Linked DNA regions of Homo sapiens. The protein of the gene in region 1 purifies or fractionates together with the protein of each later gene. This does not show direct contact. Each region holds a gene or a part of one and is shown in the gene's direction. Other genes may lie near its edges. The genes, in order: EMID1, KLHL25, YTHDF1 and RSPRY1.

What was found.
Region 2: the proteins of EMID1 (region 1) and KLHL25 purify together in Homo sapiens (affinity purification with mass spectrometry; 4 studies listed by BioGRID and IntAct, with this or other methods). This does not show direct contact.
Region 3: the proteins of EMID1 (region 1) and YTHDF1 purify together in Homo sapiens (affinity purification with mass spectrometry; 3 studies listed by BioGRID and IntAct, with this or other methods). This does not show direct contact.
Region 4: the proteins of EMID1 (region 1) and RSPRY1 purify together in Homo sapiens (co-immunoprecipitation; 2 studies listed by BioGRID and IntAct, with this or other methods). This does not show direct contact.

Annotation. Positions count from the first base shown.
Region 1 is NC_000022.11:29,200,952-29,208,895, forward strand, and holds the start of EMID1 (EMI domain-containing protein 1 isoform 1 precursor), read left to right. Parts: upstream 1-4,944; 5' UTR 4,945-5,087; coding exon 5,088-5,188; intron 5,189-7,944.
Region 2 is NC_000015.10:85,791,414-85,799,532, reverse strand, and holds the start of KLHL25 (kelch-like protein 25), read left to right. Parts: upstream 1-4,607; 5' UTR 4,608-4,767; intron 4,768-4,849; exon of another isoform or gene 4,850-8,119. UniProt on the Homo sapiens protein: Substrate-specific adapter of a BCR (BTB-CUL3-RBX1) E3 ubiquitin ligase complex involved in various processes, such as translation homeostasis and lipid synthesis.
Region 3 is NC_000020.11:63,198,778-63,206,632, reverse strand, and holds part of YTHDF1 (YTH domain-containing family protein 1), read left to right. Parts: intron 1-2,825; coding exon 2,826-4,346; intron 4,347-7,855.
Region 4 is NC_000016.10:57,189,329-57,197,183, forward strand, and holds part of RSPRY1 (RING finger and SPRY domain-containing protein 1 isoform 1 precursor), read left to right. Parts: intron 1-6,730; exon of another isoform or gene 6,731-7,328; intron 7,329-7,855.

The DNA of each region.
Region 1 (7,944 bases):
CTCCTCTGTCCCCACCACTCTCATTCTCCTCCTGCTTCTCAGCACCACCACTACCTCCCCATTCATCCTGGAGCTGTCAGGTGGGGCGGGCCCACATGCTCATGACCCGGCAGGTGCCACCCGGGACTGGCAGGGCTGGTGGGCTGCTCCAGGGCCTCTGCTCTGAGGGGCTTCTCTGGTCTGCCCTTCCCTCCTGCCAGATCCGTCCAACCACATGGACTCACAGCTGCCACTTCAGATGCATCCAGCCGGGAGTGGGCTTCACCTCGCTGGGGTGGGAGATGGACAGCTTCCCATACAGAAGGTCTTAGGCCACGTTCCTAGGCTGTGGTCACCAAACATTTCCCTCACCAGCCTAGAAGTTCCACTACCAACGATTTAGGGTTTAAATGGCAGGAAGCCCTGTTAACTCCCCCTCCTCCCAACATTAAACATTAAACACATCAGTCATTCACACTCTAGTAGGAATGAGCCAAGAGCTCTTCCCTCTACCCCCTAGTTGGGTGGATGCTGCATATGGAGATACTGTTCATCCATTTTTGCAAGAGGAGATGAAAGAGAAGCAGAGGAAGGGACCTGAGAGAAGGCAAGTAGGGCAGAGGTGGGGGGTCAGAAAGGGGAGGATTTAGGAGAAATTGCCAGAGGAGGGGAAGGGGGAACAAACGTTGCTAAGGAGAAAGCCTCTCATTTGTCCATTCCTGCAGTCAACAAAGCACAGTTGCAGGAAAGTCCCCGAGTCCTCACACCCCCATTTTCCAGATGCAGAAACCGAAGCTCGGAGAGAAGGGACTCTCTAGATCACATAGAACATCCAGGTCTCCTCACTCCAACAAGAGGTACCCTGTCCTGCCATGCTCGCTTATGTCCGGCCCTGTCATTCTGTTGTCGTCCCCCTGTACCCCCCTCAAAGATGCAAAACGGGAGATTCCAGAGGACAGGAAGGCCCTCCCAAGCCCTAATTTATGATTTTCTGACAGCTTCCTTCCTCCCACTACTCCCTTCCAGCCCCAGTCCCAGCTCTCTGGGGAAAGAATGAGCTGGGTGAATGAGAAGGGCAGCTCCATGGAGCATAAATAACTCGGCTGGGCAGCTGCAGGCTGCCTAGGTCTCCCAGCGCCCCGACCCTGGCCCTGCAGGGTGCTTCCATCTCTGAGAGCCAGGGACAGGAGGGCCAAACCCCCTGATCAAAAGTGCAGAGAGCAGCCATTGCTCTTGGGCCCTGTCCTTTGTCTGGTCAGCAGCTTTTAAGGCTGTGGCTTACACGGTCCCTTCCCTTTCATGGTGTCCAGGCACTGCTTGGCAATTAGGCCTGGGCCCCTGGGGGCTGCGGCCATGGGCTCTGGGCACCCCTTGGGCTGCTTCCTCACCTATGGAACAGGCACGATATGGGAAGAGTGCCTGGGCTCACACGAGCTAATGTGTGCACAGGGCTGATATGACGGGGCACACCCAAGCTGGAGAGACAGTCCTGTAGGACACAGCGGGAGGAAAGAGTCCCTTAGCTACGGCCCCCAGAGACTTCACAGGGGAAGGAGGCTGCCGCCCAGGTTGTTTGTTAAGAGGATAAAACATTTCCTGTTTGGACTAGGCCAGGGTGGATGCGTCAGTGAATCTGCCCCAGAGGGGCTGTGTTTCCCGGATCCCATGGCCTGCCCTGGGAGGGTGTCTGTGTGTGTCCCTGTGTGGTCCATCTGGGTGTGGGTCCAGGTCTGGGTATGTGTCCACACATTCTCTCTGGCCTCATCAGCCCCAAGATGGGACTCCAAATGTGAGCCAAGTTATCTCTTACCCCAAAGAAGACCTGCTTCAGGGCTCAGCCAGTGGGTGGCAGTGTGGTCTGGTGGGTAAACTCATAGACAGCTGCCCATCACTCACTAGCCGTGAGCCCCACACCTGGGGACAATAAGGCTTCCTCCTGGGTGGCAGAGAGGATCGCAGCAGACAATACAAGCAAAACGCTTAGCACAGCGCCTGGCGCACAGTCAGCATGGGGAACGGAAGCTGCTGTCGTTACTGGCGGTTGTGGTCTCGTCTTGGCAGTGGAAAGGACCAGGCCCCCAGGGGGGAGGCCCCGCCCGCAGGGACAGGCCCTGAGACCTCAAGCTAGCCGGCCCCTCTCCTCTCAGTTTCAGCAAACATTGAAACCTCAAATAATCAAAACCCCAGGCCCCCACGGCATTTCCTGCCTTTCCACTCAACTAGGAAAGAGGACCAGAAAGCCGGCTGTCATCCAACAGGAAAGTGAGCCCTTAAACGGGGGCTTCAGCTGTGCCCCAGGGCCACTGAAGGGGAGACCTGACGTTTTCACACTTTCCCAGAAGCTCAGACTCTTGAGCCAGAGGGACCTTAAAAGTCCTATGTGGGAGGGTTGCTTGAAGCCAGGAGTTCGAGACCAGCCTGAGCAACAGAGCAAGACCCTGTGTCTACAAAAAATATTAAAAATGAGCCAGATGTGCTGTCATACACCTGTAGTCCTAGCTAATCAGGAGGCTGAGGCAGGAGAATCGCTTGAGCCCAGGAGGTTGAGGCTGCAGTGAGCGGAAATGGCACCACTGCACTCCAGCCTGGGTGACAGTGTGAGACCCTGTCTCAAAAAAAAAAAAAAAAAAAAAAAAAGAAGATCCCATGGCTTGTTTTTTCAGGCAAAGAAATGAAGCTCAGAGAGGGGAAGTGACTTGTCTTGGGTCACACAGCTCCCAGAGGTTGCTCTGGAATTGACACCCTGGCCTATGGGTCACATGGCTTGTGGGGTGTATCCATCAGGCCACACAGCCACAAGGTGATAAATAGTGATAAATAAATCTATATTTATTTATCCGGGTCTACAGTGATAAATAAATACCCTGGACCCGGGAATCCCAGCCTCAGTAAGGACAGGCCCCTCTCTGATGTGAAAATGTTGATAACAGCTTTTACCAGGAGAGTCTCTTGCTGGGGAAATTCTGCAGCGGCCTGAGTCTGCCACAAGTTTGATGGCATTGGTTAAGAAATGTGGATGCCATTAATCGCAGGAGCATCTCAGACATGTTGCAAACAGACCTAGTAGTGCCTCCTCATTCTGTGGCACCCATCTGACACCCTAGACACCTCTCAGTCCCTCCAAGGCATTATCCAGTGCTTCTCCTTCCTAAACAGCTGCATGTTTGAGCTTCCTAAACAGCTCAAAGCACCCCTGGGGTGATGGGTTTTTATCTGGGCCGCTTGATTGGGGTTTCAGACAGGCCTGGCATCCTCTTGGGGGCATGGCTCCTCAGGAGTGACGAATTATCCAGGGTGTTAAGTCACTGATCTAGCTGTGTCAAAAACAAGGGCTAACCAGAGAGGTACAAAGCTGCATTTCTTGGAGGTCAGAGAGATGGCACAGGAGATGTGCCAAAATTTCACGTGAAAAGGAGGGCAACAGCTCCCCAAGGGGGCAACATTGGCACCATGGTGATGTCGCTGGAGGGAGAGGGAGCCCTTGGGGGACTATGTGAAGTAGGGGAGAGTGGGTGACAGGCCATTACCATGATATCTCAATCCTTCCCACACTCCTGTAACGAATGTACAACTGTCCTCCCTGCAAAAGAAACACTGAGGCTGCGAGAGGGGCAAGACTTGCCTGAGCTAACTGGAGCAGAAGTAGCAGAGGCAGGGTTTGAACCCAGCTCTCACTACCTGTCCCTTGGGACAGGGCAACAGCTTTCTCTATGTGGACACACTGGTGATGGATCCCCCGTCCTGCCTGCCTGCCTGCCTATGGTGGCCTATGCTGCCTGCCCCTGGTGAGTCCAGGAGGGGCAATCCAGTGACTGGCAGATCCTTTCTGGGGAGTGTTTCTAGAAGGGACCGTGGGTCTGGACAAGCCATAACAGGAAGTAGCCAAGCTGGGCAAGGGCTTCCCCAGCCCAGGCCTAACTACTGCCCATCGATCCAGGCAGAAGGCGGGGTTAGAGACTGCCCTGGGAGATTGGGGGTCTGGGTCCCCTCTGATGAGAGCTCTGGTCTCTCCCTATAAACACACACTCCTATCACAGACACACACATAACACACATGCACATAAATCCACATCAAGCATGCACACACATCCATCATACACACATACGACACACACATGCACCCCTGCACACACACACTACGCTTACATATACCTTTGTGGGATGTAGAGCCATTCCTCCAGAAGCCCATCCATGTACCCCAGATGAAACCACCCAACACCAATTCTTACCTTGTTACATATGGTGAAATCAAGGCATAGACCGAAGTGCTGTGGTTAAGAGCTGTTACTCTCCGAAGTCAGGCGATCTGGGTACAAATCCTGGCTCTGCCAAACCCCTGCCACGGTGCTTTAGGTAAATGACAGCTCCTTTCTGTGGCTTAGTTTCTCCACCTGTAAAATGAGAATAAGAACAGACTCTGCACTTATGGGGTCAGCCCAGATCTCCTCCTAGGGAGACTGCGAGTGCCTGGGCCTCAGTTTTCTCTTCTGTAAAATGGGGATATTGTGCCCAGTTCGAGCAGAGTGGCTTGAAGAGTCACCTGAGATAGGATGTGAAGTGGCCGCGGTGAGGTGCCCAATACACGTGGCGCGCACTGCTCAGGAAGCTTTCCTTGGAGGGCTGGATCCCGCAAAGGTGTCGAAAAAGGATGAGTCCCGGATATCATTCGCTCAGGTGAGGTGGGTTCGGGTCCCGGCTGCGTCTGGGACCGTGGCCCGGGCCTCAGTTTCCCAGTCTACAGCCCGTGGGAGGACACCTCGGAGCTGGCACCCCGCCCCCAAAAGGGCCCCGCGGCGCAGGGCGTGGGGCTCAGGTGGACACCTGGCGGGCCTCCTGGCGGGGGCGCCCTGGCCGCCCGGGCCCCTCCGGGCTCCTTCCGGGTTGGCAGCGGCGGCGCAGGGGGCGGGGGGCAGCGCAGAGGGGCCGGGCGAGGCCGGGAGCGCGCGCCCCCGCCCCCGCCCGCCCGCCTCCTGCCCGCCCTCCGGCCGCGGAGCTGGAAACCGGGCTCCGCGCGTCCGGGGCGGCTGGCGGCGCGGGCAGGCAGGCGGGGAGGACAGGCTGGGGGCGGCGACCGCGAGGGGCCGCGCGCGGAGGGCGCCTGGTGCAGCATGGGCGGCCCGCGGGCTTGGGCGCTGCTCTGCCTCGGGCTCCTGCTCCCGGGAGGCGGCGCTGCGTGGAGCATCGGGGCAGCTCCGTTCTCCGGACGCAGGTAAGAGCTCCCGGCGCCTTTGCACCCCGCTGGCCGAGGGTCCCGGCGCGCACACGCCCCCACCTCCAGGAAGGGCTGGGATTGGAGGGCGATCCAGTCCCCAGCCCGGGTGAGGGCAGGGACACGGCCATCCCGCGGTCCGGCTGAGGCTCCCGCGAGTGCGGGGTCCCCTACTCCATGTGTCGGAGCTGGCTGCCTCCCCTACTCCCTCCCTTTCAACCCAGGAGCTCGAGAGGAGGGGGAAGGGGCGCAACGAGGGCGAAGCCCTGGCCCTTCTGTTCCCCTGTCCCTAGGGCCCCTCCCCCTGCACTTGGGAAAGGCCTATGACACCCCCTAGCCGACTCTTCTCGGACCCTCTCTCCCCTTTTCCCTGTTCCTGTTTTTTTGCTTTGTTTTGTTTTTTGTTTGTTTGTTTTGTACCCAGGCTATTTATCTCCCTCGGAGGAGGGACTGGGGTGGAGTCTCACAGCCCAGTGGGTCAGTGTCGGAGATACCCCAGGGACCTGGCATTTTGGACAGAGAAAAGAGGGAGCACAGTCTTCCTTCTGCTCTCCTAGCGGCGGGGAACCTCCTCCCTGCTGGCCTTTACGGAGGAGCTCCCAGAACCTGACATGGTGGGGCCCATTATTATATATAGTGTCCTCATCAATCCTTGAAGGACCGAATGAGGTAGGGAAAACTGTCCCCATTCAACGGTTAAGCAAACTGAGACCCTAGGGAATTGGCATCATCTTTTAGCCTCATGGGCTATTCACTGAAGAGCTAGGTTGCAAATCTGCCCTTCTATCCTTGATGACAGTGTTTGAACCTGTCCTGGCCTCTGTCCTGGCTGCAGCCCCAGCGAGGGTCCCCTCCTAAAGGCCAGCCGCCGTTGTCCAAGGCAGACAATGTGGAGTAGCCAGGCCTCTCCAGGCCTTTTCATCCCATTCAAAGGCCTGCGCGGCCCCCACCCCCTACGGCCTCAATTCTTTAATTCTTTTCAGAAATTCTCCTTTCCCAGTGGTCAGGGGCCAGCATGCCCCTGCTGGGCTAGCAAGAGCAGTTGACATGGGCAGGGCTGGAGGACGGAGGTGGTTGAAGCATCAGAGGCCAGAAGAGCAGTTGTCTGAGACAGGGGTGGACGTGTGGCAGATGTTACAGCCACCACCTATTGTGTGCAGACAACAGTTAGCCTGAGTCGGCTCCGTTACCTGCATTCATCAGCTCCAGAATCCTCCCAGCTGCTTGGAGGTATGCTCTTTATGATTCTGTTTCATAGAGGAGGAAGATGAGGCTCAGAGAGGGAACATGACCTGCCCAGAGCATGGAAGTGAGCCGCCAGGATCCCAGATGCTAAGAGGACAGAGACTATGAACTCAGAAATCCCACTGTTAGGCTCAGGATGATGGTGGCGACAGCTTAAGGCCCAGACCGCCCTGCAGCCAGTTCAAGGCAGGGCTTCCCAGCCTGGGCTCCTCACCTCCCAGGGTCTCCTGGGTGGGAACAGGATGATGGCTATAACCAGGTATCTGGTGGTCACTGGGGACTGTCACTCCATGTGTTGACAGAAGCCTATCACAGTAGCCTGAGCATCCCAAAAACCCTGTGGGCAACACTATTGCACCCATTGTACAGATACGGAGGCTGAGGCCTACAGAGGACAAGTGGCACCTCAGTCCAGACCAGTCGATTTCCAAATCCAGTGGCTTTTTCTCTCCAGCAGCCTTGCTGGAAGAGGGAAAGAGGTTGTCGGCTTGGGGGCACCAGGAAAGGTTTGCAGTCATGATTAGGAGTTAGGGGCTCCAGCCTTGGACAGAATGGAGACAGAATTCCTTGCTCTTACAGGCTTGATGTGTGACCTCAAGTGGGTCACTTCCTGGCCATGGGTCTCAGTTTTGCTCTCAGTTTCCTTCTTTCCTCGTGGGAAGGACCAGCACCGGGCCTCACCTGCAGTGGTTCCTGCTATCAATCATGTCACATGGGGGTAGGGACCTGGAGCTTGAGGAGTCTGTGGGCTACCAGAACCTCCACTTGTGGCCCCATCCCCACGTTGCTGGAGACAGCATGGGGGTGTCATGCCCTGTCAGCCTTCCTGCCACCCACACCCCAGCACCCCAGGCACCCCTTGGCAGCCAAGGGACCAGACGCAGAAAAGAGGCTTTGTCCTGGGGAGGGGGTGGCCTGGGAAGGCATCCAGGGGGCCGCCCCTTGCCCCAGGAAGGTGGTGACACTTGGAGACCCCCGGAACCAGGGTGCCCAAGGGCTATGCAGAGCTGCCTTGGCTTGCCCCTGCCCCTGGGGCTGCTTCCTGCCCCGCTGAGGTCCTTCTAAGCCTGGAGTCTGCTTCCTTTAACCACTCATCTCAGCGTTTCAGCTGAGGGTTCAAGCCTTCACCAGCCCAGATCTCTCGCCCCTGCAGCACCGGCTTCCTTCCGGCAAATCCTAGGATCAGGGAGAATGGAGGGCTCTAAAATGGAGGGGATCTGCCCCAGCCTCTGTCTAGGGGGCTGCAATCCCAGCTGATGCCCACAGGGGTGACCTGGGTAGGTGCTTTCTCTTGGAGCCTGTTTCCCCCTCTGTAAAATGCAGAACCTGATAATCCCTATTCCAAGGGGAAGACCTTGTGAAGAAGGTACTGTGCTGGTGTCCCCAATCCCCAGGGAAGCCCCTGGACCAAGCTGCTGGGTGTGGGGCCCATGTCTGGGCCTGAGCCCCTCAGTCCCGGAACAGGAATGAACAATAGCTGTTAGCGCTGTGCTAAGGGATTTGAGTGAAGC
Region 2 (8,119 bases), on another chromosome or scaffold:
TCAACATGAGAGTACCAAGGCCTAGCTATGCATGCAGGCCAGCTCCTCCCTGCCAGGGGTTGCCTCTCTCTCTCTCTCTCTCTCTCTCTGTCTCTGTGTGTATGTGTATATACTTTCAGGTGGAAGTAAGTGCCTTGGAGATATGGACTAGGGTGAGGGCCTGCCAGGAGTGGGGAATGTGGCTGCTCAGGGTGGTCAGGAGGGCCTAGGTGGCAAGGTGACATGTGAGCAGAAACCAGAAGGAAGCGGGGAAGGGAAGCATGTGGCCCTCTGAGGGAGCGCAATCCTATAGAGCAACAAGGGCAAGGCCCTGAGTGGGAGTGGGCTTGGCCTGTTTGAGGCCTTGAAAAGGGATCAGTGGGTCTGGAGCAGAGCATGTCAGGGTCAGGAACAGGGAGGTGGGAGTTGAGGTGTGAGAGTGGCCCAGGCCAGACCAGGGCAGGCTTGTGGGCCGATGGTAGGACTCTGGCCTTCACTCTGAGTGAGGTGGGAGCTACTGGTGGATTTCGAGGGGTAGACAGACATAACGAAATTATCTTATAAAAAGATCCCTCTGGCTGCTGTGTTGAGAACAGATTCTATGGGAGCAGTGTGGAAGAGGGAGATGGCCTGGAGGCTGCCATAATGTCACAGAGGAGAGAAAATGACAGTGTCTCTAGACCAGCCTGGGGGTGGCAGTGGAAGTAGTAAGTACTCAGACTCAACAGGGATTTCCTGATGGATTGGACATGGGGTAGGAGAGAATGATGCCAAGTTTTATCTTACAAAAGGAAAGACTGCGTTGTCCTTTCCTGAGATGGGGAAGCCCACAGGGAGAGCAGCCATAGGAGCTCAGCGGAGACAGTTTGAGGGTAAGGTGCCCTAGACATGCACATGGAGATACCCAGTAAGCAGCTGCACCCATGGGCTTGGAGCTTATGGAGAAGGCGGGGTGGGAGCACAGAGTTGGCAGTTGCCAGTGCTTATATGAACGTAAGGCATGGGCTTGGATGAAATCACTTAGAAGGTGTAGGTAGGGAAGGGAATAGGTCTTCTTATCTCCCTATGCTCCCTACGCTCGCTTCCCGGGCGCTCCAATATTTGTAGGTCTGAGAAGTGAGGGGGAATCAGCAGAGGAGACTAAAAAGAACACCTGAGAAGGTAGAAAGGAAACCAAGAGGCCAGGCGCGGTGGCTCACGCCTGCAATCCCAGCACTTTGGGAGGCCAAGGTGGGCAGATCACCTGAAGTCGGGAGTTTGAGACCAGCCTGACCAACATGGAGAAACCCCGTCTCTACTAAAAATACAGAATTAGCCAGGCGTGATGGTGCATGCCTGGTGATCGCAGCTACTCGGGAGGCTGAGGCAGGAGAATCGCTTGAACTCGGGAGGCAGAGGTTGTGGTGAGCTGAGATTGCGCCATTGCACTCCAGCCCGGGCAACAAGAGTGAAACCCCATCTTTAAAAAAAAAAAAGAACCAAGAATTTGATCATCTATTAACGAACATATATTGAATTCTATACATCATCCCAGAATTTCTGAGACTTCAGATTCTGGGCCACCAGGAATACTAGCTAGATGGCAATGCTGGGAGGAAGGTATTGGTAAGGATTGTTGGTGGACAACAGGCATCTATTCCCTCTTCCTTGTTAACAGAACCCTGACTTTGAGGAGGTGATGTACTAACATAAAAGTCTACATTTCCCAGCTGCTCTTGCAGGTAGGAAAACTAAATTCTGTCCATAAACAAAAGTGTTGTGTGGGACTTCTGCAGTCTGCATAAATAGAGCTAACCAGGCTGGAAGACACACATCTCATGCTCTTCCGCCATTATTCCTTCCTACTGTCTGGGATATAGGTGTCAGAGTTGGAGCCCTAGCAGCCATCTTGGACTATGGGGCAACCTTGCAAATGGGAACCAAGCATTACAGATGAAGGAATAAAAATACAGTAGCCCGTGTTTCTGACAACTGTGGAGTTGCCAACAAAGGATAGCTTAACTTTAGCTTTATTTTGCATAAGCAAGAAACTTCTATCTTGTTTCAGTCACAGTTAATTTTGGGTTTTCTGTCATATGCAGTAAAAACTAATTCTAACGGATATGAGATTTATTCACAGTATTTCAAAACTGTGTAGACAACTTTGATGCAGCCCTAAGAGTTCTGAGATGAATTCATGGTCCCTGCCCTCCCAGAGCTCCCTGCACAGCAGGTGGACTAGCTAAGCAGGCCATTACAACACTGGCTGGTAAGGGCTGCGTTGACGGTAATGCTCCAGGGTCCGCAATAGATGGCAAGGCAAACTTCCGCTCTTCCTCTCATCTTCTTTCAAATCGTACCTAAATTCGATTAACTCCACACGTGTTCTTAGTCTGATTTTGTCCCATTGCTTACACTGTATTTGATTTTAATATATTCTAGTACCTAATTTAAGCCTTGGAGTTGAAGAGAGAAAAAATTATAATGTGGACCAGATTTTACTGGGCGGTTGGCACTTATAATTTTACAGCGAACCTGCATAAAATAATAAGCAACAGTTATAAACTTGCCAAGAATCAATTTTGCATGTGGAGCTTCATTCAACCAACAATTCTATAAACACTCTAGTGCTAGAAAATCGGCAGGATAAAACTACAAATGTGATCTCTGTCATTTCCTTAATGAAGTAATTACTTTGATGCTAATGTGTTGGAGCTGGTTCCTTCCGGTGGGTTGGTGGTCTCGCTGACTTCAGGAATGAAGCTGCGGACCTTCACGGTGAGTGTTACAGCTCTTAGAGGTGGCGTGAACCCAAAGAGTGAGCAGCAGAAAAATTTACCGTGGAGAGCGAAAGAACAAAGCCCCCACAGCGCCAAAGGGGACCCAAGTGGGTTGCTGCTCCTGGCTGGGGGGCGGCCAGCTTTTATTAGCTTATTTGTCCAGGCCCATGTGCTGCTGATTGGTCCATTTTACAGAGTGCTGATTGGTCCGTTTTACAAACCTCTAGCTAGCCACAGAGTGCTGATTGGTGCATTTCTACAGAGCACTAATTGGTACATTTTACAAACCTCTAGCTAGATACAGAGCGCTGATTGGTGCATTTTACAATCCTCTTGTAAGACAGAAAAGTTCTCCAAGTCCCCACTGGACCCAGAAAGTCCAGCTGGCTTCACCTCTCACTACCTTTTCTCTTCAGAAGGCACCTTAACAGTGCACTTGGCAAGCTTCTTACCTCTGGCCAATATTGTTCATAAATATCAGAACCCTGGTGCCTTAGATGTCTGCAGATCTGGGCCAAATGGAAGCACAAATCTGTACTGAGCACTTACTACATGCCAGGCCTATTCCATATGTTATCTTAATCTTTCCCATACCCCTGCAAGAAAGGTTTTAGAATCCTCTTCACCAGTAAGAACCAGACACCAGAGAGTCTGAGCCATCTGCTTCAGTCCTACCCAGCTCTTGAGGGGCAGGGCGGGGCTTCAAACCCAGAACATCAAGCTGTTTCCCAAAAATGCCTTCCCTGGTGGTATCTTCTCATCATCTCCCAGTCTTTTAACCCTGGCATATCTGTCCTGTCTAAGCAGCTTTCTACCCAGGGGCTCTATTTCCCAGGTTCCACTAGTCACAATCCTATCCCCTCTCCCAAATCTTTGTACACTTTCTTAGACCTTCCTTGCACCTCCCACCTCCACCTCCGTCAGGGTGACCTCTGCTTCCTGGGAATTTCCCCGCCCCAGGCTTGGCTCTTTCGTTCTTATCACTTTCTATGCTTTACCTTTTGTATCCTTAAGCAACCTACTTGAATTATCGATTTTCATTGGGAGGGAGAAAAGAGAGGACATTTATTGCGCACTCATTTGTCTGGGAATTTGTCTCCTTTAATCCCCCAAATAATCCGATGAGGAGTTTTTATCTGCCGCTTTACGGATGAGATTGGACACACACAGTAAGCTGAAGTAGTAGTCAGGAGGGAAAAGGACGAAGAATCACAAACCGTTCTCCCCCTCCAAGATGAGTGCATGGTGTGGGCGTCCAGGAAACGTTCCTGGAAGAAATTATTGGATGGATGGATGAATGAATGAATGAACGAACATTTAAAGGCTGGCTTACGAAAGGAGTTTAGTGAGAAATGACACAGAGAGGAGAGCTGAAATACTCCAAAAAATACAGATTTCAAGTACAGGTGGGGTTTGGAGGCTGCAGAAAGTCCCAAACATTCAAACAAGCCCAGAGTGAAAGACAGGGTTTCATTAACACTCGGGCAACTACTAGTGTGGCTCTGAAGAGTCTAAAGAGATCTACAACACTTGTGACCCGAACACAAAAGAGGCATATGCAATCTACAGTGCTCCCTCTGGAAAGCTCTAGAACACCGTCGCGTTTTGTTCCCAAACTTGGGCGGCGGGGTTGGGCAGGCGCCTGTCTCTTTAAGAATCTGGTCGAAGTCCTTTTCCTCGCCCCGCCCCGCCCCCGGTCCCCCCCCCTCCCCGCCCCCGGCCCCCCACCCCCCGGTGCCGGCGCGGCCTGGGGCCCACCCCCTTCTTTTCTGCGGCTGCACTGAAGGGTTCGGCTGCCCATCCGTCACAGAGGCGATGCCTCTGATTGGCTGCTGCTCTTCGGGCCGGGAGGCGGGGCGGGAAGGCCGGAGAAACTAGTTTGTTGGCGGCGCCTAGGCTGTATCGCAGCGAGAGCGTTTTTGCCTGTGGAGAGCCGGCCGACGGGAGCCGCGGCGGAGCCTGTTGAGCTCGCGCGGGCTGCCGGGAGTGGTCTCTGAGGCGGCGGCGGCGGCGGGGATCGTCTCCGGCAGTGAGTATCCAGGCCGGGCGGGGACGCCGTGCTCTGGCCGCAGCACCCGCGCCCCCGCTCCCTGCGCTGGGGACTCACCACCCCGGGCCGGGCCGGGACCAAGCGCTCGGAGCCCCCGCGGGACTACGTGTCCCGGGAGGGGGCCCCGCGGCTGGGGCCGGGGCCCTGGGACAATGGTGGGGAGCGGCGGCCGGCCGGCACCCCGCGGCTCCGCGAGGGAATTCGCCGAGAGCTCTGCGCGAGGGAATGAATTGTTTGGCAAATGGATGTTGCGCGCGGGAGCCGCTACTCTTTCCCCAGGGAGTGGTTGATTCATTGAGTCCGCAGACTCTTTTTTTTAAAAAATTACTATTGATCCTGGAAAGAGAGACTGCTTGTCTTTGAGGACGCGAGCGGCGATGCCCCGCGCCTTGGACGCCCAGGCCGGATGGCTGCCTGCCTGGCGCAGAGCGAGGGCCCGGGGTTCACAAGGGGAGGGTTTGCGCGGGCCTGGCCGCGGAGCCCCGAGCCGTTCACGTTCCGCCTGCCAGGGTCCCTCGTTTCGGTTTGCAGAACTGTCCAGCGGCAGAGAAAGGTCGCACTCAAAGGCACACCCACCTGTCCACCTGGGTGGCGGCCAGACTGGCAGGTCCAGAGCAAGCCCTCTAGCCTGACTCTAATTACCACACTTGCCCTGGCTCCGAGACACACCGCGCGATGTTACGCCCCCACTCCCCCTGTCTCTTTCGTAGTTGCTTTAGAAGCTTTTCTCTTGGGGGATTGTGCCCGGGAGATACCAGATACTTTTTTTGTGTTGCTGCTCTAAGCCCCCAAAGTGCATTCCCATTGTCTTTGAACAAAGAAACATCTCTCTAGAGGCCTGACCCAACGAACTGTGGGTGAGGGGGCGGACCCAGGCCCCTGCAGATTTAATCTGGACGCTCTTGGGTCCTGCTGGATCCCGGTGAATTTGACCTTGGGGAAGGCGGGCTGGACTTTGACTCTCCTCGGTAGTCAGGGCAGAGAATGCCAGGTGTCTGGACCATTTGGTTCCACTCTATCGGCCCAATAGAGAGAGGAAGGGAAGGAAGTTAGCAGTAGCACCAGGAGAGGAGGCAGGATTCCACGGTCTGTATCCTGGACCAGATTCCAGTGACCGTTATGGGGCCAAGCCCTCTGGGACCCTGGGTCCCAGTCTCCCCATTCATAGGAGGAACTGATGCTCAGTGTGCTGATCTGAGCTGTGAGGATTCCTGGCATGTTGGTGAAGGCTTGCGTGGGGGTCTGGGGAAGAGTAGGACACAAAGTCTACCCCACCTCAGGGTCCATTTGGTGTCCCAAGACCGGAGGCTCTTGGGTCCACAAGCTGTGCCTGTGAAGGTTGACGTAGTCAGTCTTTTTCCGGCCTGGCAGCTATTTCAGTTTTGAGTCATTTGTCAGGCAGTGACTCCAGGGTGGTTGATAAAAGGGAGGTAGAAATGGAAGACACCTTCATCCTGGGGTCTTGGGCTGCAGTTGGATTTATGTATGTGGTGCGGAGAGAAGAGCTATAGGCAAATTGCATGCTCCACATCGGAAGCAGGTTCTGCAGCCCGATGCCCCTTAATAGCGTTTTAAATCTGCGGGCACCCCGTGTGGGCAGAAGAGAGCAGGAAGAAAAGAGAACAATTACCCAGTGAAAGCAAGCTTGGTTCGTCCCGTCTATCACTTGGGCGGGGGCGGGGGGAAGGGTAGGATGAGTGAGAGTGTTATTTAGTGGGTGGTTTGTGACTGATTGATTGATTGATTCATTGTTTGAACAGACTTGATTGGGCACCTGCTGTGTGCCAGGCCCTGAGTTAGGTGCTGGAGACTCTTCCTTTAGTGAGCACCTAGATGAGGGAGTGCTGGCACATGGATTAGGGGCCCTGACACATCGTAGTGATAGAGGCAGCAAGAGGAGAGAAGGAGACACAGGTGGGCAAGGCTTCCTGGGGAGAGGATGCCTTGACTAAGATGAGAAAGGCATGTCATCGCCCAGATTCGAGGTGTAGGGCAGCCACCTTTGTCCTGTCGCTCACCCACACTTCTCCCAGAGGCCCAATTCATTGCCAGCCTCAAGATAGGCACAGGTTGAGGCCATGGAGAATGCAAGTGGGAGGTGGTAGAAGGTTTGCTCTCGTCCGTAGTGTCTGGCCGCACAGTCAGCAGTCCAGCGCATTTGTAGGAAGCTGGATGGCTTCTGGATGCAGCCTCTCTTCTCTGGGGGTCCTGGGAGAACCTACCCCCTGGTCCCAAAGACCAGCCCATTGTCTGAGCCCCTAGTCCCTCTGTACCACCAGGCAGTGTAGGCATAGCCTGGCCAGTGTGGGCAGAGCTGGCACAAGAAAACAGAGTGGCCAGACACAAATGAATTGGTTGATTGAGATGCTGGTTTTCATCTAATGTGGTAAATTTCATAATTTAATTGCCTCAGCCAGCCAAGGCTGTTGAAGCATTTTCCTCACCAGGAAACACTTAGTTGGAACAAGCTGGGGGTAGAGGAGGGAGGTGCAGGGGAGGAGGGAGGAGGGAGAACTTAAGCATCCACAGCTTTCAGTCACAGCATCCCAACAGGACTTATCAATCAGCAGCTATCCCCAGCTGATGGAAGTCAGCCCAGCCCCTACAGTAGGTTCCAACCCCTTTCCTTGACCACCTCATTGCCATACCAACCTAAAGCTGTCAAAAGCTGACACCTGTCATCTTCAAGGCATAATCATCCCATACTGCCTCCAGGTCCTTCTGGGGCTGTTAGAAACTGGGGAAGGGGTGCTGTGGGATTAGGTGGGGAAGCGAAGGGGTTTGGGGATAGGAAGGGCTCCCTGTTAAGTCCTTTTAACCCAGGAGCAGTGGAAAGAGCATGGGCTTTGGCACCAGACTGGGGTTCAAATGCTGTGGGTCTGTGATCAAGTTCCTTAACCTCATTGAGCTTTGTTAGCTTTTTTCAGGGGTATGGTGAAGGTTAACCACCATACTATGCAGAATCCCCTAGAATGGGGTCTGGCACCAAGTGGGTGTCAGTCATGCCGGGCTCCCCTTTCCCTTTTTTGTTTTTGTTCCCTGGGTGCAGAATTGAGGTTGGGTGCTTGTTGCTCTGCAGCTGACTTGCAGCCCTCCCCTGAGTCCCCAGTCACCTCACCCCCGCCCCCTACCTCTCTTGCCACTCTTTCTTACTGCTAAACCTTTCCTGCTTTCCTTCCAAGCCCTGTCCCAGCACCCTGTTGGATGATAAACGATAGATGTGTGTGGCTTATTAACCTTTTTTTCTTTTGAGAAGGAGTCTCGCTCTGTCGCCCAGGCTGGAGTGCAATGGCGCCATCTTGGTTCACTGCAACTTCTGCCTCCTGGATTC
Region 3 (7,855 bases), on another chromosome or scaffold:
ATCAGGAGGGTTTAGGGCTGCCAGCAGAGCTGATTAGCGTCACCGTCTTCTGTGGCTCAGGATGTGAATGGTGGTGATCTGGAGCTGAAGGATTTGCAGAGTACTGGCTAGAACTGCAGGCCCTGCACCTTGGGTAGAGGGAAGCTGGATGGGTCATTTATGGGCTCTCTGTCTGTGCAGCGTGTGTGCTAGGTGTGTCCATTTAATACTTAAAACGGATTTTCAGGAATGTTACATGCCTCATGTAATGTGGATTTTTTCATGTGGTAAGTGATGTCCTGTCTTAGTTAAGGCTTTAGGTGTAAGTCAGAAGTGTCCCTGGGCATCTGTTTCTGTGGCCTGACTCCTCTGGTTGGTGTTGGGGCCAAGTGGATTAGAATACCACACAGCCATCGAGGTCTTTTTTTCCCATCTGCTCTTTTTGCGTGGAAGGAAGATGTGTTGTGATTGCAGCGCTGCTGAGGAGCACGTGTCCAGCTAATGGGAGGAGGAGGGCTGGCTTCCCTGTGGGGGGGACTGTCCCCTTGCCTGCCGTCCTTGAAGGCACCTGCGGCCAGTGACTCGAGGAGCAAGTCCTGTGCACAGACCGCCCCCCTGATTCGCTCACCCCCCCAGTCTGGGCCTGTTGGCCAGGGCAGCACCCGAGGGAAAGGCTGCAGCAAAGGAGCCAGCATCATGGAAACTGTTTTGAGGGAGAATAAGCTCAGATTAATCTCATGTTTGTGGAACACTGATAGCATCCCACTTGTCTTCTTATACCCCCAGAATCTCAAATTTATATTACGGGGAAACAGCAGTTAGTGCATTTTAAAAGATGATTCTGGGGCCAGGCGCTGTGGCTCATGCCTGTAATTCCAGCACTTTGGGAGGCCGAGGCGGGTGGATCACCTGAGGTTGGGAGTTCGAGACCAGCCTGGCAAAGATGATGAAATCCTGTCTCTACTAAAAATACAAAAATTAACCGGGTGTGGTGGTGGGTGTCTGTAATCCCAGCTACTTGGGAGGCTGAGGCATGAGAATCGCTTGAACCTGGGAGGCGGAGGTTGCAGTGAGCTGAGATCGTGCCACTGCACTGCAGCCTGGGCGACAAAGTGAGACTTCGTCCCAAAAAAAAAAGGGGGGGGTTCTGGAATTGTCTGCTCACAAGTGGAGAAGTCAACAGGAAGAAAATTAGAAAATAAATTGGATTTCTGAAGCCCTCAGTATTCTAGGATGGGAGCAGGAGGCAGGAAGTGGTGGCCGGGTCATTGGTTCATTAGTCCACCAGTGTTGGCTGGTGTTGGGGCACTGCCCCCAGGGAGAGCTGCTTGTGGTCACCCCTCCAGTGAAGCAGGCCTGTTTCATTGTCTGGGATCCCACAGTCTCCCTCATTGCCTCAGCTACTTTCCCACCTGGTGTCCCCGACTGGGTGCTGTTATCCTTCATAGTGTAGCCTTTGATGCCAACATGAAAGGTCAATGTGGCAGGGATGAGGTTGTGAGATGAGGTCTGGAGCATATTCTCTTTATGTAGAACCTTCTGGTTACTTGGGGGACTGGGGGGCGGGGAGCGGGAAAACTAAAAATCCAAAAACGGGCGTCACAGACTGGAGAGCCCCGTGTTTTACTTCCGGCTCTGTTTTCTGTAATAGCATCTTGGCACTCTCAGACGATGCGTCTAGGTGGGAGCCTTCTTACCTCACACTGGACCCCGTCTCACCGGCCTGTGTACAGGTGTGTGTGCGCACACACATACAGACACACCTCACACGAAAGTCATTTTAAGGCAGTGTTGGAGGGACCCAATCATGACCAGACCCTTAGTTGAGTCTCTCCAAGGAGATGCCGTCCCAGAACTGCTGACCCTCAGTCTAAATTTGTGCCCTGGGCAGCTCTTCAGAGACCCCTACGATGGGGCACTCAGGCACTCACCTTCTCTAGCAGACCTTTTTGCCTCATGGTTCCGTCACTTTAAAACCACTCTCTGAGGTTCCAGTCACTACACAGACATGTTTTCATAAGGAAGCCCAGGTGAGTTGGCATCCAGAGTGAGGGCTGCTCTGCACCCGGAGCACAGAGTCCACACTTCGGATGCTTTCTCTTGGCTGAGGAGCTGGAGCCAGCCAGGGCCCTCTGTGCAGGGGCCTACTGCAAGAGCCCAACGCTGTGCCCAGGAAATCATGGGAATGTGAACCCCCTTGGACTTAGAGGCAGGGGCCATCTGCTAGGAAGGGTGTGTGGAAGGAGCCTCTGAAGCACCCTTGAAGGATTCTGGGAGAGCTTTGGTCCAGGTATGGGAGAGTGTCCCAGGAGGAATGTCAAGGCCCAGAGGTGGGCGCCCAGGGCCTGCTGAGTAATCAGCGAGCTTGGGGTCTGTTCTCTGGAGCAAACTGCCTCACGGCCCTGCACATCCTGGTTTGCCAATGGAAATATCTCTGCCTTACAAAGCTGTTTCAGTTCCCATGATGCCGTCCGTGTCTGTCATAAGCGTTGTCGTCAGCAGGCAGGGGTTTACTCCTCTACCTCTGGATTCCTTTGCAGGTAAGAGTAGAGGGGGCTGCTACCTTGCCAGTTCTAGAGAGGCATAGCTTCGTCATTTAGCCTGAATTCAGAGCCTTGCCAATGATGCTTCGTATTTTGAGACGGCACCCTGGTTTGTGTTCGTTATTAATTTCTCTGTCTTGATTTGGTTCTCACATTGGCGACTACAGCTTTCTTTCTGGAAGGAGTAGCCCCATGCTGTGCAGGTTTTGTTTTTGCTCCACCTGTGCTTAAGCAAGAGGCGGTTGGCATTCTCAGCATCTCGTGTTGTAGAAGTGGTGTAACTTGTCACGTTTGCTTTTGCAGAGTAACAGTTACCCCTCAATGAGCGACCCCTACCTGTCCAGCTATTACCCGCCGTCCATTGGATTTCCTTACTCCCTCAATGAGGCTCCGTGGTCTACTGCAGGGGACCCTCCGATTCCATACCTCACCACCTACGGACAGCTCAGTAACGGAGACCATCATTTTATGCACGATGCTGTTTTTGGGCAGCCTGGGGGCCTGGGGAACAACATCTATCAGCACAGGTTCAATTTTTTCCCTGAAAACCCTGCGTTCTCAGCATGGGGGACAAGTGGGTCTCAAGGTCAGCAGACCCAGAGCTCCGCGTATGGGAGCAGCTACACCTACCCCCCGAGCTCCCTGGGTGGCACGGTGGTTGATGGGCAGCCAGGCTTTCACAGCGACACCCTCAGCAAGGCCCCCGGGATGAACAGCCTGGAGCAGGGCATGGTTGGCCTGAAGATTGGGGACGTCAGCTCCTCCGCCGTCAAGACGGTGGGCTCTGTCGTCAGCAGCGTGGCACTGACTGGTGTCCTTTCTGGCAACGGTGGGACAAATGTGAACATGCCAGTTTCAAAGCCGACCTCGTGGGCTGCCATTGCCAGCAAGCCTGCAAAACCACAGCCTAAAATGAAAACAAAGAGCGGGCCTGTCATGGGGGGTGGGCTGCCCCCTCCACCCATAAAGCATAACATGGACATTGGCACCTGGGATAACAAGGGGCCTGTGCCGAAGGCCCCAGTCCCCCAGCAGGCACCCTCTCCACAGGCTGCCCCACAGCCCCAGCAGGTGGCTCAGCCTCTCCCAGCACAGCCCCCAGCTTTGGCTCAACCGCAGTATCAGAGCCCTCAGCAGCCACCCCAGACCCGCTGGGTTGCCCCACGCAACAGAAACGCGGCGTTTGGGCAGAGCGGAGGGGCTGGCAGCGATAGCAACTCTCCTGGAAACGTCCAGCCTAATTCTGCCCCCAGCGTCGAATCCCACCCCGTCCTTGAAAAACTGAAGGCTGCTCACAGCTACAACCCGAAAGAGTTTGAGTGGAATCTGAAAAGCGGGCGTGTGTTCATCATCAAGAGCTACTCTGAGGACGACATCCACCGCTCCATTAAGTACTCCATCTGGTGTAGCACAGAGCACGGCAACAAGCGCCTGGACAGCGCCTTCCGCTGCATGAGCAGCAAGGGGCCCGTCTACCTGCTCTTCAGCGTCAATGGGAGTGGGCATTTTTGTGGGGTGGCCGAGATGAAGTCCCCCGTGGACTACGGCACCAGTGCCGGGGTCTGGTCTCAGGACAAGTGGAAGGGGAAGTTTGATGTCCAGTGGATTTTTGTTAAGGATGTACCCAATAACCAGCTCCGGCACATCAGGCTGGAGAATAACGACAACAAACCGGTCACAAACTCCCGGGACACCCAGGAGGTGCCCTTAGAAAAAGCCAAGCAAGTGCTGAAAATTATCAGTTCCTACAAGCACACAACCTCCATCTTCGACGACTTTGCTCACTACGAGAAGCGCCAGGAGGAGGAGGAGGTGGTGCGCAAGGTGAGGCTGGGTGTTGCAGGCAACTGCCATGCAGATGTGTCCTTGGTGCCGTACTTAGACCAGGTGGCCCGGTGGTGAGCAGATGCGGCAGGTCCGCCGAGCTGAGTCTCGTGACAGGCAGCTCCCAGTTGGCCGCAGGTGGGCGGGCCCAGGTCCTGGCAGCCTCGTGGGCTTTCCCTGCGGAGAGTACTGCTAGTAACCAGTGATGGTATTTGGGTAGATGTCACCGAACGACTTTGATCACTTTCCAATTATAATTGAATAATTGGGACCACAGTGTACACATTCTGTTTTTCTGTTACAAAGAATTTGAGGGTAACTTTCTCCTCTCCTTTTTGAATTGTGATACTTTCTGGAACAGTGCTTCCCAGCCTCCGTCCATGAGGAACACTTAGGTGATATTCACGAAGCACTGCGGTGGGCACGTAGGGCATCGAGACCCCACCTGGCCAAGGGCCCTTGCTTCCCAGGGCACTGTCCCTCAGTAGTTGGGAATCTCTGGTCTTTGATCTGGAGGTCGTTGCTTTATTTTTCTTTTAAAAACCCAGTATCCTGCAGTTTTTGGAAACAAACTCACTCCATCTAGGTCGTAAAGAAAATGGTGGTGGTGGGGTAGGTTTGGAATCCAGACATTTTATAATGACAAATATGGATCCTATATCAAAAATTCATTGACTGGGCCTTTTTGAGACAGTCCTGATTTCCTGGGATACTTGTAGCCAAACTCCTGAGTCTGTGCTGTCATGTGATGTCTGACGGGATTGAGTGTGTTTGCTCTTCAGAAGGGCTCAGATGCCCGTAAACTGGCACCAGCAATGGGAAAATGATGATGCTGACATACTTCATAATGCTTCCTTTATTCGAGAGAGTTCATCCTGAGATTCTCTCCTGCTTTTTAAAAAATATCCCTTCCTGAAATGTCAGTTGATAATAGATGGGTTTTCAGTGTTTTTTTCAGTTCTCTATGTTAAAGGAATTATTCACCTGTGAGCACCAAGTGTCCTAATGTATTTTGGGCAGAAAGGCGTGTACATGGCATATATAGGGATGTATAGAGTAGAGCCGCCTGCACTGTCTGCAGTCTTACATTATGCAAGTCCTGAACAACTTGGGGCTTGTAGAACTTTGGAAAAGTATCAGTCCCTCTCTTTTGTGAGAAAAGAAGTGGATGTCATTTATTTCCAGTTACTGAATTCTGAATTAGTTACTGAAATTCTGTGTTTTAGGTCTTTTTTTTTTTTTTAAATGGAGTTTTGCTCTGTTGCCCAGGCTGGAGTGCAGTGGCGCAATCTCGGCTCACTGCAACCTCCACCTCCTGGGTTCGAGTGATTGTCCTGCCTTAGCCTTCCAGGTAGCTGGGATTACAGACAATAGCTCGGATTACAGACTTTTAGGTATAAAATGAATACTGAATTGCTAAAGTTGCAGGGATAATTGCTAATGAAGCTTTAGGTCCTTAGCTGGCTAAACTGGAAGCTGGCTGTGTGTGTGTGCGCGCACAGTTTTTCTTCTTAAATACCGTAATACTTGGGTTTTCATAAAGTGTGCGGACTCCTGACCTGGTTGGTGTTTTTAAAACTCTAGTGTCCTACAACTTGCATTATAAAAACTTGATCTAGATAACTGCTTTTGTGTGTCGGGTTATGGGTTAAGCATCTTGGTAAGCGGCCTGCAGGGTCTGTGGGCATCTGCCTGCAGGCAAGATCCAAGTGTTCCTCAAACCACTGGGTGCTCCAAGGCGAGTCCAACAGAGCCGCTGGTGGAGCATCATTGGAAGGAACTTGGTAACCCTCCCCTAAACTGTTAGCCAAGCTGGAGAACTCTGGGCCCATATGGGTCAGTGTTAACATTAATTCATTTTATTGAAAGTGACAAATGAGAACCTGGTTTGTTAATGTTTGGTGGAATTTCAAATAGCTTTTTTTTTTTTGAGCCAATCTCACCGTCAGCCAGGCTGGAGTGCAGTAGTGCAATTTTGGCTCACTGCAACCTCAACCTCCGAGGTTCAGGCCATTTTCCTGCCTCAGCCTCCCAAGTAGCTGGGATCATAGGCGCCCACCACTGCACCCAGCTAAATTTTGTATTTTTAGTAGAGATAGGGTTTCACCATGTTGGCCAGGCTGGTCTCGATCTCTTGACCTCAAGTGATCTGCCCACCTCAGCCTCCCAAAGTGCTGGGATTACAGGTGTGAGCCACCGTGCCCCGCCTCAAATAGCTTTTTGTTTTTGTTTTTGAGACAGGTCTTTCTCCGTCTGCCGGGCTGGAGTGCAGTGACTTAATCACAGCTTGTTGTAGCCTTGACCTCCTGGGCTCAAGCGGTCTTCCTGCCTCAGCCTCCTGAGTAGCTACAGGCGTGCACCACCACGCCTGGCTAATTTTTGTATTTTTTTGTAGAATCAGTGTCTTGCTATGTTGCCCAGGCTGGTCTTGAACTCCTGGGCTCAAACAGTCTTCCCACCTTGGCTTCACAAAGTGCTGGGATTATAGGAATGAGCCACTGTGCCCGGCGTCAAATATCTTTTAAGCTTATTGGGCAGTGTAGAGAAATGGAAGTGGTCCTTGAGGAGGTCCCCAGACTGGACTTCGCTGCTGGCTCTCCCTGCCTGCGAAGGTGCTCTAGGCCTTGTGCTTAACGGGCTGGGCTAGTGGCTCATCCAGGATTGGAGTCTTAGGTGTCTTGAGGCTGAGACTCTGGGTGTCTAATGCTTTCTCCCTCTGGGTTTCCCATGAAGAGTCAGTGCAGTTTTGTTTTGTTTTTTTTTTTTTTAAGACAGAATCTTGCACTGTTGCCCAGTCTGGAGTGTAGTGGTGTGATCTCGGCTCACTGCAAGCTCTGCCTCCTGGGTTCACACAATTCTCCTGCCTCAGCCTCCCGGGTAGCTGGGACTACAGGCCCTTGCCACCACGCCCAGCGAATTTTTTGTGCTTTTAGTAGAGATGGGGTTTCACCGTGTTAGCCAGGATGGTCTCGATCTCCTGACCTCGTGATCCGCCCGCTTTGGCCTCCCAAAGTGCTGGGATTACAGGCGTGAGCCACTGCGCCCGGCCGAGTCAGTGCAGTTTTAAGAACAAAGTAGTGTGCCGAGGAGAGGGTTGTGCGCCTGTGCTGGTAGAGCCCCCGGGCGGTTTTCTCAAGGTTCTCTCAGGACTTCGAAGAACAGACCCACCTTTTCTTTATCATTTAGAGTTTGGCCCCATTGCTGTAAAGGTCATAAACAAGTTGAGTGTTGAGAAAGTGAAGTAGAGTTAGCATTTTGCAAGATTGCTGTCCAGCTATAAATTTAGAAACATACTGATTTCTTAGGATGGCAGTAGCTTTTATGGCAGCAGAGTCAGACCAAGTCCTGGGTTGATACATTTTTTGGTTTTAAAAAAACCTAGAAACGGCCACTTCTTAGCTTAAAACAGTGAAAGTGGTGAGCGTCCCACACTGTGAGCATTGCTTAGTTCCTCAGACTGACTGTCCTTGCCCTGGCGGCAGGTGCCCCTGACCTGACCCCACTTCGAC
Region 4 (7,855 bases), on another chromosome or scaffold:
AGGTATACCAGCATACTCTATGTGGGCTTCTGCTTTTGTCAGCAAAATAACTTTTCATTTAGTAAGTATCAAAGGGAAATAAAAACTTAGCATTTTGTATAATAGTGTGTTAATCTGTAGTGAATCAGGTAAAAACAACAAATCTGAGTTATGTAGCACTGTGGGGCCTGGAGGCTAAAAAAAAAAAAAGTGTGTTTTGTCAAGAGTTTAACAAACAATTATTCTGTATTTCTTTTTTTCTGTTTTTTCTTTTTCTTTTCTTTTCTTTTTTTTTTTTTTTTGAGACAGGGTCTCATGCTGTCTCTCAGGCTAGAGTGCAGTGGTGCAATCACGGCTCACAGAAGCCTCTACCTCCCAGGCTCAGGTGATCCTCCCACATCAGCCTCCCAAGTAACTGGGACTACAGGTGCGAGCCACCACACCTGGCCAATTTTTGCACTTTTTTTAAGACAGGGTTACGCCATGTTGCCCAGGCTGGTCTCAAACTCCTGGGCACAAGCCATCCACCCACCTTGGCCTCCCAAGGTGCTAGGATTACAGGTGTGAGCCACCATGCCTGGCCTCGTGAGCTTAATTTAGTCTGTTGAGAATTGTATATGCTTTCCTTAACAATGAAGTAATTTGTTCTAATGAAGTGGGAAATCCCTTTGCATCTTTTTAAATACAGCTTTCTTTCACACTCTATATAGTTTGGAGAAAATGTTAGGAATTCTTGAAGGTAGTAATCACTATTACACTACTTAAGATTGGAAGTTATGGCTGGGCATGGTGGCTCACACCTATAATCACAACACTTTGGGCGGCCAAGGCGGGAGGATCACTTGAGCCCAGGAGTTCAAGACCAGCCTGGGCAACATGGCAAAACCCCATCTCTACAAAAAAATACAAAAATTAGCCCAGCGTGGTGGCACATGCAGATAGTCCCAGCTACTTGGGAGGCTGAGGTGGTAGAATCTCTTGAGCCTGGGAGGTTGAAGATGCAGTGAGCCACTGCATTCCAGCCTGGGTGACAGAGCAACACCCTGTCTCAAATAAATAAATAGGAAATGTTCTGTATTTTTTAGTAGGATACTTGTAAAGTGGGGTGTGATAGTCTCAGGATTGCAAAATAAGTGGAAAGTCAGTAGTCACCACAAATGGGAAACACAGTGGAACCAGCAATCTATTTCAAAAGAATTATTTGGGGATAATAAACTATGGATTTAGCTTCTCTTCAAGCTTTTGGCATTTTCAAGGCAGTTATCATTGAATTTGGGTAGTTTTTTCCCTGATATTCAAATTAGAAAATTGAAAAGCAGAATAATCACGAAGTAGTAAATGCCGTAACTTGGGCAACAGCCTTTTGGAGGGGACTTTTACAACTTTTAGAAGTGCAAAGGAGTGAATATTTCCCTTTGGTTTATCATTCAGTAAGTCAGCTTTTGAAATCCTTTTCTTGCCAACCTTTGTGAGTAGAGAAAACATACAAATGTGTCCATTCCAAAAGGGAGTGGTTGCTGGTTAAATATGTAAAAGTAGTAACTTTAGATAAATGTGTGGTATATACAAGGTTAAATCAGGAAAAGTTATCTTATAAATAGTGGTGGCCTCTTAGAGAACATTCCGCTTTGTTTCTGAGCTTTTGAAAACTGAGAATACATTTGAAATAGTAAGGAATTTATGTACTCCTTAAATTTGTTAAGGAATGAACTCTGCACATAGCTTTCTTGTTGCTTGAAATTATAGTTTCCAGGCGTAATTTCATAGGTCCTATGTACCTCAAATAGAAGGTTTGAAATACCTTACTCAGCAAGTATATTACCTCATAGTTTAATGTTCAGTGTTAGTTTTTTCTTACCCCTCTACCTCCTGAAGAATTGTTTTCGCTCTTGTGTTCCCTTAATGCAGTGATTCTCAAGATGTGGTTTCTGCCCAGTCCCTCCACATGGGAAATATAGCACTGTTTGTTTGTTTTTTTAAGTTTTTATTGCTTCATAGTTGTTCATACTTAGGTATGCCTAAGGGCTACTTATTAATAACCTACCAAGTGAATTACTAAGGATTACTAAAACATGGTATTCATAACCTAAAACTAGAACAATATTGGAGTTTACTGTGGTCTCTTAATACTTTTTTCGCCCAGGAAGTCTGTCCTGGGAAACCTGGCACCAATACAAGCTTCTCACATGTCATATGCAGAATGGGGATTCCTGCAGTATTCAGGAAGTATGCTTAGTTTGGGGTGCATCATCTGAATTGTCTCAAAATAATGTCAGTTTTCATCATGATTCCTCTTTTTTTATTAGAATTTTTATTTAACTTCATCTTTATCAATTTAATTTATAGGTTTTTTTGTTTACTTTTCATTGTGTGGGCAGGAATATTTATACCAACAATATTTTGGCTTATAATGTAAGACATAAATGTGTTACAATGCAAAGATAGATTCTCTAGTCCCCTTTTGCTATTGCTGATTTGTATAGTCACCTAAAAACTTGCTCACACAGAGGTACTTCAGTGTTACCAAAGTTCCTTTTACACTGGAAAACTGATGGAACAAGAGGCCTCCTTCTAGTAGATGCTTTATCTGTAGTCTTTGGGTAGGGAGCTAAGTTTGTCCCTAACCCCAGCTCCCTTTGTCAGGAGCATGAGGGACCTTTTTCCGTCTTTCCTCACTGCCTGCCATATAAGCATTGGATATATAGTTATTGAATGGTGTTGTCTCAGTTTTTCAAAATGGTAAATATTTTGGAGAGACTTTATGTTACAGATTTTAGAATAAATTCACCTAAGATATTTATTGAATACATATTAGGGTCTAATAAGTATCCAAATGAGTATGCAGTATGAGTGTTTTAGACATCATTTAAAGTAGACATCATTAAGGAAAATGTTGATATTCATGCTGCTTATATATTTTATTTGCTTTTCTTAAGAGCAGAGAGTTTTCTGTAATAGAAAAATCCTTTTCCTTCAGATTTGTGTATATTTGAATAACACATGATCTCCTATTATTTGGCCTCCTGGGGGGAAAACCACAAGTACTACGGAATATTACATTTGTTTTTCTTCCCTGTACTGCAACCGTCATAAGCATTTACCTCAATTCTTCCTTAGTATTTTTTGGGAGTCCAAGGCAAATTTTTCAATCCTTAAGATTTCAGGCAGGGATTATTTACTTCCCCTTTTTTACTATTATTTGCTTCCGGAAATTCCTTACTCTATCCTAGGCCTAAATTTTATTTTTTAGTAAATTATTTGAATGCTGAAAGGATTTGTCTTTTCTCCTTTGTACCATTTTAGGTCAGGACTATATTCTGTAATTCTTTCTGACCACAGATGCACTGCTACTAGGTTAAAAAAGCTCTCAACTTTTTAGAGGAAGGTTTTTCCAGAGACTCTTTTTTTTTTTTTTTTTTTTAAGGTCTCACTCTGTCTCCTAGGCTGAAGTGCAGTGGTGCGATCATGGTTTACTGCAGCCTCGACCTCCCCAGCTCAGGCGATCCTCCCACCCCTCACTCCCACTGCCCTTCCCAGTAGCTGGACTATAGGGTCCAAGCCGCCACTCTGGCTAATTTGTGTATTTTTTGTAGAAACAGGGTTTCGCCATGTTGCCCAGGCTGGTCTCAAATTCTTGGGCTCAAGCTGTCTGCCTGCCTTGGCCTCCCAGAGTGTTGGGATTACAGGTGTGAGCCACCATGCCCTGCTCAGATAGTCTTTCAACCAGAAAAAAATACCTACTTTCAAAGGTGTGCTTTCTTAAAGATCCTCAGTGCATAAGGGAAATGTCAGAATCATCCAGTGCTTTTCCCAGACTTCTTGACAGTTACAGTTCAGGAGTTAATGGTACTCTGTGTGACCTAAACCTACGGTTAGATAGCTTTGGACATCTGGGAGGCAAGTAAAAACGCCTCATCAAGACAACCTTTCTTTTTGTGGGAAAAGTAAAATTCCAACCAAATATTTCACAATCTACCCCCTTCTTACCTTCCCCAATGAAATACCAGAGGCTTTAGAGTCTAAAGACAGAAACACTCTTGTTGAAACATCTTTAGGTAGTTTCTGTTTCAGCTGGCAAGTGTAATCTTCATGCATTACCAAATCAGTATTGTTGACTTGAGATTTTCCCTATTTAAACACAATCTTCAGTAAGAAGATTGTGGTCTTTGGGGTGTTCTGCAGGCTTTTTTTTTTTTTTCTTTGGAGACAGAGTCTTGCTCTGTCACCCAGGCTTGAGGGTAGTGGGATGATCTCGGCTCACTGCAACCTCCACCTTCTGGATTCAAGTGATCTTCCCACCTCAGCCTCCCAAGTAGCTGGAATTACAGGCACACGCCACTGTGCCTGGCTAATTTTTGTATTTTTTTAAGCAAATATGTTTCTAGATAATGTTCTCTATCTTGATAGGGTTTGAGTCACAGGTATATGCATTTGATAAAACTCAGCACGTTACTGTGCTTAAGATTTGCACATTTCAGCCGGGTGCGGTGGCTCACGCCTGTAATCCCAGCACTTTGGGAGGCCGAGGTGGACAGATCATTTGAGGTCAGGAGTTTGAGACCAGCCTAGCCCACATGGTGAAACCCCATCTCTACTGAAAACACAAACATTAGCTGGGTGTGGTGGCATGTGCCAATAATCCCAGCTACTCAGGAGGCTGAGGCAGGAGAATTACTTGAACCCGGGAGACAGAGTTTGTGGTAAACTGGGATCACACCAGTGCACTCCATCCTGGGCAACAGAATGAGATTCCGTTTAAAAAAAAAAAAGATTTGCACATTTCAGTGTATGTAAATTCGACTCCTAAAAACTTGAAGTTTATTGAAGTCTAATTAGTGATATGCATGCTGAATTATTTAAGAGAAAGTATACTGATGCCTATAGTTTACTTTGAAATATGTAAAAAAAACTGAATGGATTAATGATGGATAAGAGATGGATAGCGATAAAGCAAGTTTAGTAAAATGTTAGTAGTAGAGTCTAGGTGGTGGGGATAAAGCAAGTTTAGTAAAATGTTAGTAGTAGAATCTAGGTGGTGGGTATATAGTTCACAGTTTACAGTGAACTCTAATTCAATTTTCTGTATGTTTGGAAAATTTCATAATAAAATATTGGGAGTGGGGAGTAAATGTGATGATAGAAGCTATCTCTTTAACACACTTAGGGAAAAATCCGAAAACATTTTCTAATGAGAGAACATCATTAAAATTTTCAGGATGTTACACATTTTGCTATTCATGCTATTTGACTTAGCCTTTGTGGGGGAGGGTTGGAAAAAAAGTCACATCCTCTAACACTATTTTGGAATGATAAGGTGAAGATTATAACAATAGTAATTTAGTGCCCAAAGTCTGGTTTTTCTTCTTTATGGTCACTCTTGTAATCAGCTTTTCCTTCCTAGGCAGTGTAATTCTGCAGTCCTATTTTCAAAGAAAAGAAAGTGTTCTTTCTCACTGATCTGTACTATGGCTGAATGCAAGCAAATATTTGAAGAGATGAATCATTGATTCCTGGACCATTTGTCAGAGAGGGTTAGACTAGTTGGCCAGATGTCTCCATGGTGAGCTGTTTATGATGGTAGAGGTCTGTGTTTTATAAAGACAGTGAGTACCAGAACCTTACTGCTTTAACACCAAGCTTACCAAGACCCTAAGTTTGATTATTTTTTTTTGTCTCAGAGCAGCTTTAAAAAAATATAAAGCGTTAGGTGCTTCATTTACCCCCAAGAAAAATGAAAAAACATGTAAAATGTAAAAATCTAATAAATAATATAGAAATGGAGAGAATAGTCTTTAGTTTCTTTTTTAAAAAGGCAAGAATCAAAATTAATAATACCACACTTCAGAGAAATAGATTTGCAAAGGAAATATTCGATCATAATTATGCTCTTGCAGCAAAATTGTTATCGAGAGTATAATATTAGGCTGGGCATGGTGGCTCACACCTGTAATCCCAGCACTTTGGGAGGCCGAGGTGGGCAGATCACCTGAGATCAGGAGTTCAAGACCAGCCTGGTGAACATGGTGAAACCCCATCTCTACTAAATGTACAAAAATGAGCCAGGCGTGGTGGCAGGCACCTGTAATCCCAGCTATTCGGGTGGCCGAGGCAGGAGAATCGCCTGAACCGGGGAGATGGAGGTTGCAGTGAGCCAAGATCACACCATTACACTCCAGTCTGGGCAATGAGAGTGGAACTCCGTCTGAAAAAATAAAAATAAAAAAGTATAATCATATTAAAAGTATTGCCACTTAGGTGGTAAGAAGAGTCCTTCTACTAAGCACTGGCATCCAGTGATAAAAATTATTAAATCAGTTGATGTTTGTCACAGATGTGTATTTAAATTGTGTGACTAGCTTTTTTTTTTTTTGTCTCAAAGTTGACTTCACCAGCTAATGTTGTCTTTGAAGTTAAGGTAAAGAATATAGGTATTGGCCAGGCACGGTGGCTCACACCTGTAATCCCAGCACTTTGGGAGGCTGAAGTGGGTGGATCATGAGGTCAGGAGTTCAAGACCAGCCTGGCCAACATATTGAAACCCCGTCTTTACTAAAAATACAAAAAATTAGCTGAGCGTGGTGGCACGCACCTGTAGTCCTGGCTACTCGGGAGGCTGAGGTAGGCGAATCACTTGAACCCAGGAGATAGAGGTTGCAGTGAGCCGAGATCTCACCACTGGACTCCAGCCTGGCGACAGAGTGAGACTTCATCTCAAAAAAAAAAAAAAATATATATATATATATATAGGTATTACAGATGTGTTGCCTTTATATAATCTCATCTTACTCATTTTCTATTCCGTTCAGTCTCTTAACCCTTGATGATATCCTTAAGCAGCGTATCATTTAGGTTCATTTTGATGCTTCGTAAGATGGACCTCATGGGAAATATATGGAGCCATTTTTTCCTTTGTGTTGATATGTACTGTACATGTCACTTATGGATATAACCATTCTAATGGCTTTTTAGGCTGACCTCTCCAAAAGACTGCATTCAAAGATAGTCTCAGTTCATTTTACTGGACAAGGAAATTAACATTTTTGACCCAAGAAGAAATGCCCTTTAGTATTTCAGTTTGCCCCCTAGTTCAGTCGGTGTGTCCTTCCTGCTGTGCCAGGTTCTGTGGTAGGTTCTATACACAGTGATTTCCAAATGTGGCTGCCATCAGAGTCACTTGGGGAGCTTTTAAGAAAACACAAGCTTGGGCCGGCATCCCAGAAATTCTGATTCTGGCTATTCGTAGTGGGACCAGGGATTTGCATTTTAATAAGTACTCTAAGTGATTCTAATGCCGTCTATGGGATGATCAAGCTACAATCCCTCCCAAGATTCTCTGTCTGAAAATATAGGTAAGTATAGGTTATAGAAAAGTAAAAATTACTTCAGTACGGGGTAGTTCTGTAAAAGATAAATTCTTTACTTTTCTTAGTGCTTTTAACTCAAGTTTTACTCCAGAATCCCTCTCCCCCAGGTAATTTAGTTATTTCTGATTAGATATGTGCTCATTTTGTAACATCTTGCATTTTTTTGATCCAGTTTAAATGTTAGGCACTGTGCCATGCGTATTACATGCATTATTTCATTTAATCCCCACAGTGGTACTGTGAGATAAGAACTGTTACTATGTCTGTTTTTTAACATGTGTCAAGAGTCAGGTTAATTAGGACGTGTATCAGTAAATATTGCAGGGCTGGGACTTTCACCTAGTCTGACAACAGAGTGTGTACTGTGCTATGGTGGCTTCTGGTATTGTGTGTAAAATCTGTAAGCTCAGTTTTATTGTCTTAAAGCAGTGGTCCTTGGAAAGTGGGCCACGTAAAGCTTTTTTTGAATGGATGAAACAAAAAATTGTCTAAAGTGTAATTGATTAGCTTTC